Homo sapiens: one gene and its partners. The protein of the gene in region 3 interacts with the protein of the main gene of each other region in a biochemical or structural test. Each region holds a gene or a part of one and is shown on either strand. Other genes may lie near its edges. The genes, in order: OTUD5, SOX6 and TRIP12.

Evidence for each region.
Region 1: of the proteins of TRIP12 (region 3) and OTUD5, one has a biochemical effect on the other in vitro, tested with the Homo sapiens proteins (one study listed by BioGRID).
Region 2: of the proteins of TRIP12 (region 3) and SOX6, one has a biochemical effect on the other in vitro, tested with the Homo sapiens proteins (one study listed by BioGRID).

What each region holds. Positions count from the first base shown.
Region 1 is NC_000023.11:48,921,471-48,926,670, reverse strand, and holds the end of OTUD5 (OTU domain-containing protein 5), read left to right. Parts: intron 1-620; coding exon 621-824; intron 825-2,618; coding exon 2,619-2,820; intron 2,821-2,924; coding exon 2,925-3,038; intron 3,039-3,372; coding exon of another isoform or gene 3,373-3,375; coding exon 3,376-3,497; 3' UTR 3,498-4,647; downstream 4,648-5,200. UniProt on the Homo sapiens protein: Deubiquitinating enzyme that functions as a negative regulator of the innate immune system. Has peptidase activity towards 'Lys-48'- and 'Lys-63'-linked polyubiquitin chains. Can also cleave 'Lys-11'-linked ubiquitin chains (in vitro).
Region 2 is NC_000011.10:16,353,446-16,361,047, reverse strand, and holds the start of SOX6 (transcription factor SOX-6), read left to right. Parts: upstream 1-4,501; 5' UTR 4,502-4,954; intron 4,955-7,602. UniProt on the Homo sapiens protein: Transcription factor that plays a key role in several developmental processes, including neurogenesis, chondrocytes differentiation and cartilage formation.
Region 3 is NC_000002.12:229,911,932-229,919,047, reverse strand, and holds part of TRIP12 (E3 ubiquitin-protein ligase TRIP12), read left to right. Parts: intron 1-7,116. UniProt on the Homo sapiens protein: E3 ubiquitin-protein ligase involved in ubiquitin fusion degradation (UFD) pathway and regulation of DNA repair.

The DNA of each region.
Region 1 (5,200 bases), on a different chromosome or scaffold from region 3:
CTTTAAATTAAGGCCCAGGGCCAGGTGCAGTGGCTCACACCTATAATCCCAGCACTTTGGGAGGCCGAGTCGGGTGGATCACCTGAGGTCAGGAGTTCAAGGCCAGCCTGGCCAACATGGTGAAACCCCATTTCTACTAAAAATACAAAAAAGTTAGCCGGGGGTGGTGGCACTCACCTGTAATCCCAGCTACTTGGGAGGCTGAGGCTGGAGAATCCCTTGAACCTGGGAGGCGGAGGTTGCAGTGAGCCGAGATTACCCCACTGCACTCCAGCCTGGGCGACAGAGCGATACTTCGTCTCAGAAAAAAAAAAAAAAATAAGTCCCAGGTTGGAAGGCACCTGACTGCTCCAGTCTCAGTGCCTCAGTTGAGGTGGTTTGGGGGTTAGAGTCAGGTCTTACAAGCATAGGAGTTTGGAATGACAGGTCCCACATCCCAAGCCTGCTTTCCCTTGGTCCCCAATCAAGAGGTAGTCTGTGGAGTGTTGCTCTTTGGGAGTACCTGCTTTCCTGTCTCCTTTTTTTTCTGGGGCCTGTGGGCCTACCTCGCTGAGCCTGTTCTGGCTCTTGGGCAGGTTCAGTGTGTTATTGCACATCCCTGTTCCTCTCCCTCCTTGCAGTTTGCAGAGCAGTCTCTGATGAAGAATGCCATAAAAACATCGGAGGAGTCATGGATTGAACAGCAGATGCTAGAAGACAAGAAACGGGCCACAGACTGGGAGGCCACAAATGAAGCCATCGAGGAGCAGGTGGCTCGGGAATCCTACCTGCAGTGGTTGCGGGATCAGGAGAAACAGGCTCGCCAGGTCCGAGGCCCCAGCCAGGTGGGTCATGGACTCTGTCACAGGCTTGGCCAAAAACTCATTACTTCTCATGCTTTGCCCTCAAGCGAGCAGAAAAAAATTAAGCAGTTTTGACATCTGGGAGGGAAGGAAGCATCCAGCACCATCTGTAACTCATCTTGGTCTTAGTTTTGGCATTGTACCTTGGAACTTTAAATACTTGTGCAGAACAGGCACTTAAGGAGTGAGAGGAGGGCAGCCATGCTGCTGGTGACACGAGAATAATGGATAGCTTCAGAGACACAAGCTTTTGTTGACTGCCCTTGTGTGCCAGGTCTCTACTGAGAATGTAACATCAGATCTGGACTACTCTGCCCTCAACGATCTCGTCTGTTGGCAGAGACAACTCAATGGTGGGGTCCTTGACCCTGACTGGGAGATCAGTGGAGGTGGGGGCTCCGGTTAGTCTTCACAGAGGAAGGTTGAATTGTTAGGGGAGCGGGGAGGGGCGGGGCAGACAAGCATCTGAGGAATTGTAAAATCGCAAGGAGTTTGGAGTGATTGTAGATGTTGGCTGGCAGGAGCTGAGTTTTTTTTTTTTTTTTTTTTTGGAGACAGAGTCTTGCTCTGTCGCCCAGGCTGGAGTGCAGTGGCGCAGTCTCGGCTCACTGCAAGCTCCGCCTCCCAGGTTGATGCCATTCTCCTGCCTCAGCCTGCGGAGTAACTAGGACTACAGGCGCCCACCACCACGCCTGGCTAATTTTTTGTATTTTTAGTAGAGACGGGGTTTCACCGTGTTAGCCAGGATGGTCTCCATCTCCTGACCTCGTGATCCGACCACCTCGGCCTCCCAAAGTGCTGGGATTACAGGCGTGAGCCACCGCACCCGGCTGAAGGAGCTGAGTTTTATTCCACAAATACCTACTACCAGTCTGTGGCAGGCCCTGTTTTCAGTATATGGGGATACATAGGTGAGCCCAGCAGACCAAGATCCCCGTCCTTGTGATGTTCACAGTTTTGCAGAGTGAAATAAAATAATAAATATAATGAATAAATTAGTTGGGAAGTGCTATGGATGGAAAGTGTAGAGCCAGGATAAAGGGGCTGAGCAGGAATGTGCGTTCACGGTATGAAATAGCGCAGTCAGGGTAGGCCTCAGAGCAGGTGAGATTTGAGCCTTGCAGAAGGTGAGAGTTAGCTGAGCGCACATGGAGGGGAGGACAGCAGGCCCACACACCTGGTACAACTCAGGCACAGCCCAGAGGGAGGCCGGTGTATCCGAACAGAATGTAGTAGTAGATGAAGTCAGAGAGGTTGTGGGTCCAATTGGGTAGGGGCTTGTGGGCTGTGGCGAGGACTTTGGCATTTACTCTCAGAGAGGCAGAAACCATGGGAGGATTGTGAGCAGAGGACGGACAGGATGTGGTTGGGGATTTAATAAGATCGCCTTGCCTGCTAGTCATCCAGTGGAGTCTGGTGAGTGAGGGCAGAAGCAGGGGCCAGTGAGGAGGAGGCTACTGCAGTAGGCCAGGTGACTGGTGGCCAGTGCTGGCAGTGGAGTTGGTGAGAAGGGGTTGGATTTGAGATCTATTTTCAAGATAGAGGTAACAGGGTTTCCTGTCAGATTGGCTGTAGGGGTGTGAGAGAAAGGGTAAGGAGCTCCACCTCTGTCCTGTGAGGAGTCTTGTGGTCCACCGTGTGAGTGGGGATGATGTTGACCTACATAGAAGCTGTATCATAGCCAAGGTCCTGGGAAGGGAGCCAGCATTCAGGGATGGGTCACAAGAAGGTCATGGCTGCTGGTGGTCCTTAACGCATTTACCTTCCCCGCTGCAGCCCCGGAAAGCCAGCGCCACATGCAGTTCGGCCACAGCAGCAGCCTCCAGTGGCCTGGAGGAGTGGACTAGCCGGTCCCCGCGGCAGCGGAGTTCAGCCTCGTCACCTGAGCACCCTGAGCTGCATGCTGAATTGGGCATGAAGCCCCCTTCCCCAGGCACTGTTTTAGCTCTTGCCAAACCTCCTTCGCCCTGTGCGCCAGGTCAGTGACTTGCCCACAGGGAATGTGCTGGGAGTTAGGAGGCACGTCCTGGGTCCTGGGTCCTGGATCCTGGGTCCCTACCTTTGACTGTCCGTCTGCTTCAGGTACAAGCAGTCAGTTCTCGGCAGGGGCCGACCGGGCAACTTCCCCCCTTGTGTCCCTCTACCCTGCTTTGGAGTGCCGGGCCCTCATTCAGCAGATGTCCCCCTCTGCCTTTGGTAAGCCTCCTTTGTCTGGGGGGATGGAGGCTGCTAGGAGCTGGGAGAGACTGGAAGAAGTGGCAAGTCCTGAGAGGGGCTTTCTGGAGCCTCTGGCCATCTCCCCAAGAAAAGAAGGGAGAGGCACTGGAGGGGATTTTTCAGATCCAAGGAATTTGCCCCAGAAGGGTCTGGGGTCTAAGTGGGGTTTCACAGGCCTAGCAGATCCTTCTGTTTTGAGAAAGGAGTGAGAAGGGCCCTATGGGATTTCTCCAGAGCCCCAGATGTCGGCACAGGGTGAGGAGAAGGCAGGCTGAGAGCGCTCCATCATCCTTTTCCTCTTCCTCTCGCCCAGCAGGTCTGAATGACTGGGATGATGATGAGATCCTAGCTTCGGTGCTGGCAGTGTCCCAACAGGAATACCTAGACAGTATGAAGAAAAACAAAGTGCACAGAGACCCGCCCCCAGACAAGAGTTGATGGAGACCCAGGGATTGGACACCATCTCCCAACCCCAGTACTCCTGCTCTCCGGTGCCACCTCACCTTCTTTGGCTTCTTCCCTCTTGCCTCCTTCTGTTCTTTCTGCTCTCCCCTCTTTTCCCTCCTCCTCACTTCCCTCTGGCTAGCCCACCCCTGCACTCTCTCTCATTGCCGCTGCCACTATCACCTGTCTCTCTGCCAGCTGATGTGCCCTGTTGCCCCCCACCCCATCCCGCACAGAACCATCCCTGCATTCCACAGGGGACTCGGGCAAGGGTGCCGAAGATAGACAAGAGGCACACAGAGACAGACCAACTGGCAGCCAGGCAGCCCCAGAGGAGAGAGACATTCAGACAGAGGAAAGTCTCCCTGCCCCTCATTCCTTCCAAGATGAGAAAAACTTGCCGCCACCCCCCGACACTGATGCCAGGGAGGTGGGAGGAAGAAGTGGGAAATTTCCCTTCCCAGTACCCCCAAGAACGTCTGAGCCTTCAATGTTGAATTTTTTCTTTATTAAAATTACTTTTATCTTATAAAATCAACTAATCAAAAATGATATAGACGACAGCACTGGCTCTGTGAAGGTGGCATCTTTCTGGGCAGGCAGGCCATGGGGCATGGAGGAGGGTGCAAAGATATGGGTTGCTGTCTTCTGGCCTCCAGCTGCATGGAGGCCGGCCCAGGGTCTAGGGTGTGCACTGGGCAAGGGCAGGGCGGCAGGTGTCAGGCCGGCTTGGACAATGAAACCCTGACCTTGCTGCATTCCTTTTGCTTCCACCACCACTAGCTTCTTTGGAATCTTGGGGTGGGGGTCATCTTTGGGGATTATGGCTGCCACCCGGGATTTGAGTGTAGGGAGTGTGGGAGCAGCCTTGGCAGATGGGGCACCCGTGCCCTGCAGGTGTTGACAAGATCCGCCATCTGTAATGTCCTTGGCACAATAAAACCAAATGTCAGTTTCCCTGAGCGACTCTGTTCTGTGTGGGGCAGGGGTTGGGCGGGCCTCTGGGCAGAGGATGCAATGGCACGGACCTTGGCTTGACCTCAGAGGTGTGAATGCTCTCCAGCAGGGTCTGTCTGGGGGCCTGGAGTTTGTATTTGATTTGCTGCTTATTAAACCTCCTTCTGGACCTATTGCCACTGGAAAAGCTGCGTCTTTGCCTGCTGACCCCACCCCTGCCTACCCTATTTCCTGGGGGGGGGGGGGTGATGGTAGCAGAGGACTGTGAGCTTGAACTTCCTGCCTGAATTCCAGCTTCTCCGCCTGCCTCTCACCATGAATGCTGCTCTTTCCTTATCATGATCTGATGAAGAAAAGCCTTGGAAAAGTGCAACTGATACTTTGTAGCAACATGAGTTTAGTGGAAGTAACCAGAGGGGCCTCACCCACTAGGTTTTAGAAGGTGAAGGACGGCTAAACCCTTTTTTGTTCTTGTCCCCCAGTCTGACACCTCTTTGCCTGTCCTCCCTAGGGGTAAATCCAAGGTAAAGAAGGCTGGCTGGCCCCCAGGTTTTCTCAAGCAGCTTTTTCACCATGCCATGATAATGGAGACCCTCTGACAGGATGTGTGTCTGGTTCTGCAGTTGAGGGCATGGCTAGCTGAGTGGCTGTCTGCGGAGTGTGTCTGGAACCCAGTGGCCAAGCATCTATTTGTTGTAGAGTTGCTTTGAAACCTTCCTGGCCCTGGTCAATTGCTTCTC
Region 2 (7,602 bases), on a different chromosome or scaffold from region 3:
AATATTATTTTTGAAAACTTCTTCTTCTTCTTCTTTTTTTTTTTTGAGATGGAGTCTTGCTCTTTTGCCCAGACTGGAGTGCAGTGGTGTGATTTTGGCTCACTTCAAGCTCTGCCTCCCGGGTTCACGCCATTCTCCTGCCTCAGCCTCCCGAGTAGCTGGGACTACAGGTGCCTGCCACCATGCCCGGCCAACTTTTTGTATTTTTAGTAGAGACGGGGTTTCACCATGTTAGCCAGGATGGTCTCGATCTCCTGACCTTGTGATCTGCCCGCCTCAGCCTCCCAAAGTCCTGGGATTACAGGCGTGAGCCACTGTGCCTGGCCAAAAACTTCTTACTATTAGAGTATATTGGAGTCATTCAACGCATTATTTATTAAGCCCTACTATATACTTAGGTTTCTGCCAGTTATCTTGGGGGATACAATGTATTATGACACAATTCTTGTCCCCTTCTAGAGGCTGAGTAGTATAAGATATGTTTGGGCAGTACATCTTGCCTGAGGAGCCTGCTACAGGCACTATGGAGTTGACTGGGGATATGGAACATAAACATATAGGAGGAAACAAATACATATCTATTTTGATCCAATTAAATGAATGTTACACAAGTAATCGTGATAGGAATGCAATGGTGAACTAATATTTTGTGGACAGGCTTCTGGAAGAAGTAAGATATTAGCTGAGCCTTGAAGGTAGAGTCTGGAAATGTAGAGATGGGGAAGAGTTCTGTAGGGAAGGAAAGAATCAGAATATATACACATCATAATGTAGTGGAAAGGGTGCATCCAAACAGACTAGGCATCACCACCCAAACTCTGGTGATGCCTCTTACTAGTTGTACAACTTTAGATCAGCTACTCAGTCTCCCTTCTCTTCTGTGAAATGGGGGACAATGATATTTACTTTTTAAGATTATTGTAGGTCTTAGACATAGCCTGTGCAAAGCAGCTAGGATAGTTTTTGACACATGGTTAACATTCAGTAACTGATATCATTAGAAGTATAGTGTAAAAGTTAAAAGCATGGGATTTGGAGTCAGACAGGACTCACTTGAATCTCTTCTCTCTCATTTACTTTGTAACCATAGTCAAATTACTTAACCACTTCTAAGCCTCACTTAGCTCATCTGCAAATGGGGATAAATTGGTAGCTTTGTTGTGGGGTTGTTTTGAGATTTAATGAGGTACTGTGAAGCATAAAGTAATGAGCTTGTCGCATAGTATGCACTCAGTACCATTAGCCATTAGGTTGTTATTTTTATTAGTATAACTTCTCTCTTCTTCTTTGATATTTCCTTTGTGATTATTCATATTATTTCCTCCTCTTCGTTCCCTACTCGCTTCATCTACCTTCTTTCAACAACATTTATCAGTGGCATTTGTAGAGACTTAAAATGGAGACTTGAAAGAACGTAGAGGTAGAGAGGAACTGGTCAGTATCACATGTCGAGCAGAACACCAAGGACAAGATAAGAAAAGGACAGGTAGGCACAGATAAATACAAATGACAGGAGCATAAACATATATACAACCTTTTGGATGAGTCATCCTTCCTAAGGCCACTGGAGATTTTTTTTTCATAAGGGAAATTCAGACCTACTACTCCCTATGTTAATCCAATGATTTCCTATTTCCCAGAGGATAAAACCCAAACTATTTTGAATTGCATTTGAAATCCTTTCCAATCTGTTGTCATTCTGTCCTACTAGATATTTTTCCTGCTACTTCCCACCATGCACTCCATAGTTCAGTCACTTCAAAGTTCTTCCTCTTCTTGGAATGTAACCATATTCTTTTATAAGTCTCAGCCCTTGCACATCTTGGAATGTCCTTTTTTTTTTTAGTTCCACCAGACAAACTTCTCGTTCTGAGGACCCGGTTAAGTGAGTCTTCTGTAATGTCTCTGATCCCTCCAAAATGAGGTATTTGTTCCTTCTTCTGGGCTCCTACAATATATCTCTCTAGTACCTGGTTTCTTATCCTATCACTTTTCAATGGTTTATTTTCCATTTATATTTCTTGCTAGACTGTGGACTATGGGAAGTTGCTGTCTTATTTATATGCCTCTGTATGTCTGTCTGGCAGTCAGTATGGTACTTGACACAGTGCAGGTAGTCAGTAAATATTTGTAGGCTAAATAAAAGAGGTAGTAGACACAGAACTGGCAACTTCTCTGGTTCACAAGCCAATTTTAGTATTTCTCCTATTAGGATTGCCTTAGAGTCATAGGCTAATAAAATTTCAGTGTTAGAAACATACCTCATTTTACAGATAAAGAATTGAGGCCAGAGAAAAGGGATTTTCTTTTCTTTCTCTTTCAGGTCAAACCATGATTCTGTTTCCTTCAGAACACTGTGGCAAAATATCTACTACTTGAAAGGAAGCTTATTGAGAAAAATCCTGCTAATTTCTTTCCCTCTTATGGCCTGTCTTCCAGATAATTTCTCCAAACACTTCTTATTTAGGTGTTCTTTCTAGACCAGTAATTGGGGCATAAGTTGATGCTCTGCCACATGAATCGATGTGCATATATGTATATTTTAGTCATGTTGTGTTCTGTTCAGCTGCTAGATGTTCAAACCAACTGGGTTTCCCCTTAGTTACCCTGTTTGTTTGCTGTAACACTTTCCTGTTGGTAGAACTATTTGTTCTTTCATAATAAAATTGAGAATTTTCTTGTAAAATATATTTTTAAGGTAAAACAATGTAATGATTTGTCCTGGCATTCTATAATTTTGAAAGTCGTTGATGGCAGGAGAATGGCAGAGTGGAAGGATGTCTCCTAGTTATAGTTTTATTAGTAATGTGCTGATGTTTAATGGTTTATCAGGACTGAATTTATTTGAAAAGAAAACCATCTAATGTGGTCAGAGTCATCTTTTGTTCACTATGGCTCTGGCCCTTTTTGGGGAGTAAATCAGCTTTTTATGTATACATTCTGCATGGGAGCTGTAATAAGTGAGCACATGTTGCAAATGCTGTGACCTTCAGTCAACTAGAGAAAGATACCTCTTCTAATCAAAGGCAAAAGCCACGATCTTTCTTGTTGTAACTTACTGTTGACACAAGAAAGGCCAGAGAGATTGACATCAATCTCTATAGAAACCATTAACCAATGCTGAATAAATCTGCAGCATTGAATCCATATGCATGCTTGCTTTTATTATTCTTGACCTATGGGCACACTTCAGCATTTTGTGGGCTTTGTTTTAAAAGGAATGTTTAAAATGTAGCTAGTTATTATGGGATTTCGTTGGTGAAATAAATTGTTTGGGTAGTCTAAATAAAAGAATCCGTATTATTTTGCATCTACTAAGCATTATTTGTTTAGGTGTGGCTTGGTTTGATTCCAGATTAACACACAGCGAAGGCTGTCACTTTAGCTGGGTGTAGCAAAAACCAAGTAGTTTTATACATGTTTTCCAAATGATGTGCAAGCAATGTGTCATTTGATTCTAATTGTGACTTTATTGGCTTGTGGTCCCTCTTTTTTATTCTTTAAAGCATTAACAATGACTGTGTTGGCTGAAAAGACATACGTCTTTAAGAATTCCATGGATGCCCAAAACTCAGTTGGTTATAAGTACTAACAATTGCCGACCGTACGCATAGCAGAAATAGGCTCTGTAAATCAGAGCTTCAGTGCTCTGGGCCCCTCTTCCTTAATTCTCCCGCACAGAAATCGTATTTCTAGTTGAGGAGGGTGAGAAAACAAAAATGCTTTTCATTTCATTCTGTGCTGTACATTTTCCAGTCTGGGTGACTAAAGCTGGCCAGGGTGCCTATTTTTGGAAAGAGGAATTAAGATACTTTGGAGAAAGTAGTGCACTGTGTGCTGACATTCCAGATGGCCAAACTATAGTAGTACCAAGCCCAAGTTTTTGAGCCTTTCGTGCCAATGATGACCTCATGAGGTCCAGCCTGGAGAAATAGAGACATAGTTCTCCAACAATGATGAAGAATGGCTTCTTCCTTTCATATTTCTATTGAGTGATCTCCAGTGTCCTCCTCTTTTCCTGTCTCTGACAAAATTAGCCTTTTATAATTAACAATTGTTAGTTTTTTGGCTTGTCTTTCAGACTTCTCTTAGAGTCCCTTTCACCCCATCTACTTATTGTATCCTCTCTACCAAACAGAAAAACTTGTGATATTTTTCTCTTTGGCATTCCTGTCTTTTCCTAGCAGGCTTTTTTAATGGGGACTGTGGGAGATTTTACACTTGATTTGTTGAATCTGAACTCTTTGCTGTAAACTCTCACCACACAGAAGAAACTATCTTTATAAATGACAGAATGGACCTGGCCTGAATGGCGCTTTGTTTACTGTTTTCCTAAAAGGGGCCCCTCTATATTTCATCTGTCAAAGTTGCTTTTCTTTCTTTCAACAATGCTTGATTGTTTTCACAAAAATTCAGGTTCCATAGACAGGAGAATTCTGTATTATATTTTCCTGCCAAATTCCGATCTCTGTTTTCCTTCCCCTGTGCTCACAAAGGGCTCATAACTTACTGTCAACTGTGAGGCAAACCACAAAGCTCCACTGTTGCTCAGCAAATAGGCTCTATTGGATGATGGCTTGACTAGCTTGTAAAGTTTGCTTAACTGTAGCAGCAGTGGCAGAAGGTATGTGGGGTACTGTATCTCCCAACAGGCCAAGAGATTTCACTTCTTTCATTTACTTTTATGTTTTTAACTCCTTTAATTGTTGAACAAAGTTAACAGTGTTTTGTTTAGCAAATTAGATGTTGCTTAAAGTTATGGCTACAATTGGTAGCCTGAGACTTGGCAGAGATTAATTAGCTGTGGGGTTGGGTTTTTTTTTTTTTTGGTTGGCAGTCAGAGGTTTCTTGTGATTTGGGAAGGTGTCAAAGGTGTTATGCCCTCAAGTTCTGAAGTTCTGGCTGATGTGGTAAGAGAAAGCCGGATTGAAGAGTGGAAGAGCAGCCACTTCATGTGAGTGATTTGTGCTTCCTTTAGCTGTCACAGGTCTTGGCTGTATTACTTTACCTTTTAATTTTTCTAACTTCAAAGCCTACCTGATTGGGTGGGATGATGGCTTGTTAAGAAAAGCTTATGTTATGGTAATAAGGTAATAACTTGAAAAGCATTTTTGCATGACATTTGTAATCTTGCTAGGGAATTGCAACAGACTATTTAAAAACAGATTTGGTTTTCCTGAGGGTTGAATATGCATACCTTTATTTGTAGCATCTCGTAGATTTTTAACATGTGATTATTTTTTCTGTATAATCTAAGGTCCTGAGTACTATTATCTATGAGGAATCATAGATTCCCTACATGAATCTTTTCAATAAAATCAATCTTTCCAATATACACGGCTAGTTTCTAATATATGCTGCATCTGATAAGGTATTTTATGCACTATGGTAAAAGATGTTTTTACTAATGAAAATATTTAATCATAATAAACATTTCAAAGAAACACAACTGACAAGCAGACCACTGGGTAATTGCTGATGTGTTTTTAGTAAAAACTTAAAATTATTAATGTTCATAAGCTGCTATAACTAAGCAAGACTGGTATTACATTGAGATTTATAGTATTTAATGCTATAACTATGTATTGAAAGTATTATTTATATAAAACTATAGTAAATTAAATTGATGATTGGCAAGTGCATTAAAAATAGTGCTTTATCAATGCTTTTCAATTTACTCCTTTTTATTCTGCGATACATTTCTTTTGAATTTTTCTGAGTAACACACACCTTGAATTTGTTTTCCATCATGCCTGTCAAAGTTCAAAATATTAATTTGTTTCTTTCCTTATCCAGCTTTCCTAGATACCTTATTGTTTGTGAGTTTGGTCTTTAGGCAAGTTTATCTTGATGATGGAACTTTCAGCTTCAAATTGTGGAAATAGTGATCTCAAACTACACATGGAATAGTGTGTCATTGTTCTAAGCTGTGGTACAGTTAATAATACCTATTTTGTGATAATGAATTGACCAGAATACCAAACAGTTAGTCTAGCAAATCTATGACTCCTCAAGTTGATTTTCTAAAGTGAATTGTGAGAGGAGAATTTTAAGGTAAGCTGCTTTCAATCAGCTCATGAGAATGTGCTGGGGTTCTTTAGCACACTAGTAGCAACTTGATTTTAGACCTGATTTAGAAATAAAAAAAAATTGTGTGAAACAAGTAACATTTTGGAACATTTAGTGTTGGGCCAGGGGACAAGAAAATAATCAGGCTTTGAAAGGTATTCATGTATTTCATAGGATAGGGTAGCTCAGACTTTTTATTTATTGTCAAGTTAATTTAAGCTCTGGTAGCAATTTTAGTATACTGCAAGGCTGCTTCTGTTTAAAAATTAATTCTGAGCAAATGGGTTACAGTCTCCAAATACTTGGACCGTTTTAGTTGAAAATCAAGGAAAGAGGTTAATAATAGGTGGTTTGAATAGGCACCTACAGCTCAGGACTCTATTGTCCTTAGGAATACAGTTATCAGCAGCAGATGCTGTAGGCTTTGGTCTTCCCTGTGTAAAAAGTGATTCCCTCCTGTCCATACCCCTTTTGAGAAACAGTAACAATATATTTTTACCCTGTGCTTTTTATTTTCTTGGCATGGTTCTTGTCATTAGTTCACTCAGCACTGGGTCACGAGTATATTGGGACTGGAAAACTTATATTCCGTGGAATTTTTATTTATTGTGATGTGTAAAAATTCAGAATCTTTTTCTTTAAGGATTTTTATTTGTTTTTGTTTGAGTCAAACCATTTTTCTGTCAAGTTTTCTTTAAAGAAAGTTAGCATTTGTTTCATAACTACCAAATACCAGGTATTTGCACATATATCAAATTAATCTCTTCACAACAACTTTTCAAGGAAGATGTGTTGTCCCTAATTTTATAGATGGGTACATAGAGACTCAGAGAGTTAAGTAACTTCTGAAGTTCACAGACATAGTAAATGAGATTTAAGTCTTTCCTCTAAACCTTTCCATTATACTGTACTTTTCCTTCTGGCAATAGATCCTGGTAAGACTGGTAGCAAGCAGTTTTCCAGTTCTAGGCACCATGGATGCAAATAAAGTATTACTTTTGAAGAAATCTAAAAAGCTGGTAGATTAGGCATGATAAATGTAAAAGTTTTTCAGGGGACTACTCAATTTTGGGAAATCGTGAGGTGGAGGTGGTGGTTATATGAGAAGAAAGAACAGGACCAGATAAATAATGCAGGATTCTTTCCTATAACTAACACCACAGCTTGGGAAAACCAGAAATTCTGTACCTTGGTAGGTGTGCAAATATGTACTTGGTAAAGAATCCCTTAAGTATGCAAGACAGCAGGTAGTCATACTTGTCTTTTATAATGATAACTCAAACAATTCTGTGCAATGATTCATGGAAACAATTGGATTCTCATGTTCTCCTGGAGCTGTTTATGATAATTCCAGCAAATGCAAGTGAGAAATTTAAAGCAAATAGCTATAAGAAAGGGAGGAGGTGGTGGAAGTACAGAGGGAGAAATACAAGATAGCAGCACTTTAGTTATTTGTGAAACCAGACTGTTTGGTGTGTATAAAAAAATGTGGAAATTTGGGTTGGTGGTAAAAACCTTTCTTCAGCTTTCACA
Region 3 (7,116 bases):
AAGGAAAACATCACTGGCTTGGAAATTCACACACTACCAGTTAGTAGCTTTGTGACCTTGAGCTAGTCACTTAACCTATCTGGTCTTCATTTATTTTATCTGTAAAATGGGAGTGGGTAATCTCTATTTTACCTCACTGGGTGGTTGTGAGACCCAACAGATGTAATGACTGAAAAAAAACAACATGCTAAATAAATTAATTTTAGAAAATTACATGAGCTGTTTTGAGGTCATTTTTAAAAGATACAGCTTCTCATTAGTCGTGGTGGTCCATGGGGCAGGGGAGAATTAATGTAAACTAGGTTGAAGGTACAGAGTTATAGAACTTCATAATTTGAAATTGCTGCTTAATTGGTAGTAGAATTTGGGTCTCATTTTTGTCTTTTTAAAGTTACCTTCTTTTTTTGGTATCAGCATGCCAGATACTTGTTTGCCATACATTCTACTGAAAAAACTTGTTAATATGTTTAAAGAAACTTCAAATTCATTTACGTTTTTTATTGACAAAGTACCTGTTCTGGTTTGTGACTCTAATGAAATTGACTTAATGTAAGAGATTACAATTAGGGAATAATGCTTCTGAATCTTGGTCACTGTTTTCTTTACAGAACCTAGGGAACTTTCCCCCCTTTTAAGTGGATGGGTAGGGATCTTTTTGAGCAAATGTGATACCAGTTGCTCCTTTATTTTTTTGTTTGCTATTTGATGGACTCAAGTCAAAACAGCAACCTACTTGGTTTTTTAATCTTCACTGAAATCATTCCTTGCAATTGCCTGTTTGACATGGACTTTTCCCTCATTTAAATCAAGCAAGCACCCACTATGTACAGAAAAACATAGAAGATAAAGGATGTGAAGAACAACTTACAACTCATGTCTTCAGATCACTTCCTCGAACAAGTTTCTACCTGTGATCTTTGTATTTCTGATTAACTGTACTTGCTTCGTTTCTGCATTACAGTATTGCATTTGTTGACATGTGTTGCTTTTGTTTCCCTGATTGGACTGTAGGCTTCCTGAGGGCAAGGATGATTTCATGTCAATGTGGTATGTGTGAAGGTATACTAATAAACCTGATTGGTCTGGGTGAGGTGGCACTGGAGGTGAGGACGTGGGAGGATCGCTTGAGGCTAGGAGTTGTAGCCCAGGCAACATAGTGAGACTGTCTCCACAAAAAAGAAAAAAAAAGTTAGCTGGGCATGGTGGCATGCATCAGTAGTTCTAGGCAACTTTGGAGGCTGAAGCGGAAGTATTGCTTGAACCCAGAGATTTGAAGTTAATAGTTATGATCATGCCACTGGACTCCAACCTGCTTGGAAGGGTTCTTTGACCCCAGCAGATTCTTCAGAATGCTTTCTCTTGGTTGGTTCAGTGATCAGGGCCTCTTCACATCTCCCCTGACTAACGTGCCATTAGAGTGCCTGGATGGATATCAACTGTCACTGCCATGTTTTAGTGTTAAGCCAGTGGATTATTCTGTGCCACTTTTTTCATAGGCCAAGCTTTAGTTAATAAGGCCAAGCCTGAGGAGAGTCCAGGCCAGATAGGGTGGAAGAGTAAAAATCTGGTGGATGTTACAGAATAAATATAATTTTTAGATTGTTGTATATAATCTTAGTGCTTGGTAATTTTTTTTTTTTTTTTTTTTTTTTTTTTTTTTTTTTTTTGAGACAGAGTCTCGCTCTGTTGCCCAGGGTGGAGTGCAATGGCGCGATCTTGGCTCACTGCAGGCTCCGCCTCCAGGGTTCATGCCATTCTCTTGCCTCAGCCTCCCGAGTAGCTGGGACTACAGGTGCCAGCCACCACGCCCAGCTAATTTTTTTGTATTTTTAGTAGAGATGGGGTTTCACCTTGTTAGCCAGGATGGTCTTGATTTCCTGACCTCGTGATCCACCCGCCTTGGACTCCCAAAGTGCTGGGATTACAGGCGTGAGCCACCGCGCCCGGCCAGTGCTTGGTAATTCTTAACGTGTAGTGTAATGTAAGCTTTACTTGTGTATTTTCTTTTGGTACTTGTGTATCATTTCAGCAGCTGTGTTACAGACTTGAAGACATAACCTCAAAGCAGTTGTTCTCTACCTCTCTGCTGGGTTTCTCTGTGCATAATGGATGCTTGCTGTTATTTGTAATAAATAGATAAGTATACCGATGCTAGACCTGTCCCTTGATTTTTCTTTTTTTTTTTTTAAGTAAAATTTAACTCTGCTAATGTCTTGGGTTTTTTAAAAATGTAGTTCTTTAATATCCTAACTTACTGATAGTTTTAGGTTATTGGCAAAAAGAGGTTTCCTAGACTGAAATAAGTCTGTTCAGTCATTTTTCTCTGAGGCCTTTTAGATTTTGGTTGTTTATTGTGATTTCAGTGATTTCATTAAACTGAATTGGATAGAAGAAAAAGGAACTTACCCATTATTCAGGCTTACCTGCTTTGTCTTGAGAGTGCAGAAGCTATTGGCAGTAGTCAGTTTCATGGTTATGCTTGTTCGTTTGTTGAGACAGAGTCTCACTTTTGTCACCCAGGCTGGAGTGCAGTGGCGCGATCTCGGCTCACTGCAACCTCCACCTTCCAGGTTCAAGTGATTCTCCTGCCTCAGCCTCCCAAATACTGGGATCACAGACGGGCACCTCCACACTTGGCTATCATGGTTATGCTTGATTTAAAAAGTCATTCAAATGGTCTAGAGTGAAAAATACCTGCTACTGTGTGTTTTCCTTAATAGCACTGTTCAAGTGATTATCTGATTTGAAGGCAAGACTTAGGTTCCAATCCTGGCTATGCATTTCCCATCTTTGTAACCTTGGGCAAATAATTTAACTTAGTACTTTGTGAGCTTCAAGTGCCTAATCTGAAAAATTTGATTATTACCACCTAATGTAGAGTCAGTTGTCATTTATATGCTAGACATTCTGTATTTAGATTAGGCTCCACAGATGAATTGGAACACAAGGCCCTTTCTCCACTTGTTTACAGTACTGTGGACCATTGCCTCATTTGTTAAAACTCTTTTAACTCGAACATACCTCTGTTATATGCATAGGTATCCTACTTGAAACATTTGACCCAGTGGCTCATGCCTGTAATTCCAGAACTTTGGGAGGCTGAGGCAGGAGGATCACTTGAGCCCAGGAGTTTGAGACTAGCCTGAGCAACTTAGTAGAGACCTTGTTGCTACTAAAAGTAAAAAATTAGCTGGGCATGGTGGCACATGCCTGTAGTCTTCAGCTACCTGGGAGGCTGAGGTGAGAGGATTGCTTGAGCCTGGGAGATGGAAGCTGTGCTGAGCTGTAATTGTGCCACTGCACTCCAGCCTGGGTGACCGTGAGACCCTGTCTCAAAAAATTTTTTTTTTTTTTTAGTATACAATAGTATTCCTTAGTTGATTATGAATTCTTTAAAGTCTTTAGCCCTCACCCTTTTTTTAACTTTTATAAGGACACTAATCCCAAGTAGTGTCCCTTTTTATCTCTGCATCTAGCACAGTAGCTGGCCCATGATAGGGATTAAGCGTTTGTTGACAGAATAAGTCTTGTGAAAATAAAATAAGATACTGTAAGTGGAAATATTTTGTAATGGCTTAATGTCCTATTTTTAAAATTTTGATTCTTATTTTGCATCGTTAATGCTAAAATGACTTTGAGACTTTTAGTCAGTATATATTTTGGAGACTGCAAGTTACTTTAAATCATACATTTTAAAAAGAATTAGGGCAAGCCATTTTGTTACTCTTTAATTGACCATTATGTGCATGTAATAGTTGATAAAGTACATTGAGGACCTAAATAAGTTTTTTTTTTGAGATTGAGTTTCGCTGTGTTGTCCAGATTGGAGTGCAGTGGCGCAATCTTGGCTCACTTGTAACCTCTGCCTCCCGGGTTCAAGCAATCCTCCTGCCTCAGCCTCCCGAGTAGCCGGGATACAGGTGCCTGCCACCACACCCAGCTAATTTTTTGTATTTTTAGTAGAGACAGGTTTCACTCTGTTGGCCAGGCTGGTCTTGAACTCCTGACCTCACGTGATACACCCGCCTTGGTCTCCCAAAGTGCTGGTATTACAAGAATGAACCACTGTGCCTGGCCAATATGTTTTAATGCAGTGCTAAATGATTAGTGTTTCCAATTTATAATAGTATACATCATTGTAGTTTATTCTGTTTGTTTCTTTTTAGAGAGCATGTACATATTTCTATAAATATGGTGTTATTACCCATACATGGATTTTTGAAGGCTATTTATAAGCCTAAGTGTCCATCAACAAGCCTTCAAGACTTGAAGTTACAGCATTTCAGTGTGTATTTTAATCAACTTGTTGGCTGTCATAACCAATGAGTTCTACCCTGACTTCAAAACTCCTACTCACTCTAGCCGTGGGCAGTGCTCTGAATAAATAGATGTACCTTGTGCTGTGTTCTTAAGGTCAGATGAACTTAATTTAAAGATTTTATACTGGTAAACATGTGCGATGCCCTGGAAACCTAAAGTGAGTTTTCACAGTAGCCCATCTCTTGAAATTCTCTCTTCAGTTGTAATTTAAGCTACTTTGTGTCCTTAGAGAGCAGGTTCATAGAGATCATATGAATGTCCCCTACTTTTTTTGATTCTCAAAAACCAAGTGCTTCTAGTAGCCTTGTAAATAGGAAATATATGCAAATGCTGTCAACTTCTCAGACCCCAGTGTTTCGTAATTCTGTTTTACATCCTTGGCTGCAATCAGATTGAACTGTTTCTTCCTCTCTGAACACACCCAGCAACTTTTTAGCATTTTTGCTTTGGTTTTTTGTCTACTTGAATTGACACCCCCTCTCACATCTTGTATCTATTATTTTTATTATTATTTTTATTTTTTGAGGCAGAGTTTTGCTTTGCCGCCCAGGCTGGAGTGCAGTGGTGCGATCCCGACTCACTGCAGCCTCCACCTCCACCTCCTTGGTTCAAGCGATTCCCTGCCTCAGCCTCCTGAGTAGCTGGGATTGTAGACTGGTCTCCAACTCCTGACCTCAGGCAATCCACCCACCTCGGCTTCCCAAAGTGCTGGGATTACAAGTGTGAGCCACCGCGCCTGGCCTGTATCTCTTAGAAATATATATACTTACACTTAACTTTCTTCCAGTGACTCCTTTAAAATTTTTACTCCTTACTCTCCTATTCTCCTTCTGTAACATATTTCAGGATGACTTTCACGTTCTGTCTTACATAATTAGTTGTTTACATTTTAACTTAACTGGGTTTTTGGCCTCTTCAAGGTAGAGATCTCATTCTTTTATCTTCACAGTGTCTAGCACAAGGCTTCCAACATAATGCATTGTACATGGTAGGTGTACGTGGTAGTGTGTTCTGGTGTGACACATTGAGAAACGATGTTGTGAAATAATATTAGCATCGTTTGCCATAATTTACTTGCTTGTTTTCATTTTTCAGGGGTTGGCAGCTGAGTGTAGAATATAAATTTTTCAAAATTAGGCTCATTAAAATCAGCTACTTAAGGAATTGTTAAGACCCTAGAATATTTTAGTTAGTTGGTTACCCCAAATTTAGCATTTGGAGATGATGTTTATTAGTAGATGATGATTTATTTATCAATACATATTTATCAAGTGCTTACTGTGTGCCACAATTGTGCTTGACAGAATATAAAAGGGACCTGAAACTTATTCCTTGTCTTCCAAGTTCTGTTATGTTTCATATAGTTGATATTTATCTTATTCCATCACAGCTTATTTGTCTAAAACTGTATATAGGAGTATAGTATTTAGCATAGAGAAATATTCTGTAAAATTCTAAATGTAGATTTTCTGCATTTAGAAAATCTGATATTAGAATGTAAATTAAGAAACATGAATTAGGGCATGATTTGTGGCTATACTAAATAAATTGTTGAAGCATCTTCATTTACAAATATTCAGCCAGGTGCTGTGGCTCATGCCTGTAATTCCAACCCCTAGGGAGGCTGAGGCAGGAGGATGATTTGAGCCCAGGAGTTCAGGACCAACCTAGGCAACACAGCAAGACATCATCTCTACTAAAAATAAAAAATTAGCCTGATGTGGTGGTGCATGCCTGTAGCCCCAGCTACTTGGGAGGATTGCTTGAACCCAGGAAGTTGAGGCTGCAGTGCGTCATGCCACTGCACTCCAGTCTAGGCCACAGAGTGAGACTCTGTCTCAAAAAACAAAAACAAATACTCATCAGCAGCTAATGTGAGTGCATATCTGGTTCCATACAAGATCTGCCCTCTTAGAGGGTGCTGAAAAAGAAGAGATTTATAAAAGGAGATTCCTTATCTTGAAATGTACTTTGTTGTAGATGAGTTGAAACTTACGACTACAGCACACAACATCTAACATTGTGCATATTTGTTATTAAGTACAAGATCGAGTTTTATACAGTGGGTACTTGGAAGTTTAGAGAGGTTCAGTTCTGGGTTGAAGTTACTTAGGAAGACTATGAAGAGAGAGGGGCTTAAACTGGCCCTGATTGTTTGGAGGAAGATATAGAAGAATGGGGAGCTTAAAGGTGTAATTGTGGTGAGGATCTAATATTAAGGTAAATGGGCTCTCTGGAGTAGAGGGTCCATATATATGAAATAACAGGAAATTGGGCTGAGATTATTGAAGTTCTTAAATGGGAGATCACGGAATTAGATTTAACAGATTATGTTGAATGATTGTTGATCCCTGAATAGGTGATGTGAAAAAGGTGTACAAAAATATTTATGAATGAACTGAAAACAAAAATAAAAGTGCTTTTAGATGTCATTTTTTATGACAGTGCTTCCCTTTCTGATACTACATATAAAAGTTTTTGTATTAAGTTTTGGAGGAGATAGAAGTAGTGAAGGTAAAACTTCTTGTTTTTTCCTGTTGTTTAAAATGTTAAATAAGCAGAAGCTGGTTTATTGTCTAAATGACCCACACCAGTCCTCTGTTGGACACAGAAGTCTTCCTTTAGTGGAAGCTATCAGTCATTTTGTCTCAGCACATTCAACTGTTGTTTGTTCAGATTTTTTGTAATTCAAAATACTTTTTGATACCTAATGCATGATTTTTTGTGAGTTGTCCTCAGTAATTTGTAAGTCTTATATAGGGAAACTTTTGCTTAGCGTTCAATACAGTGAAATTA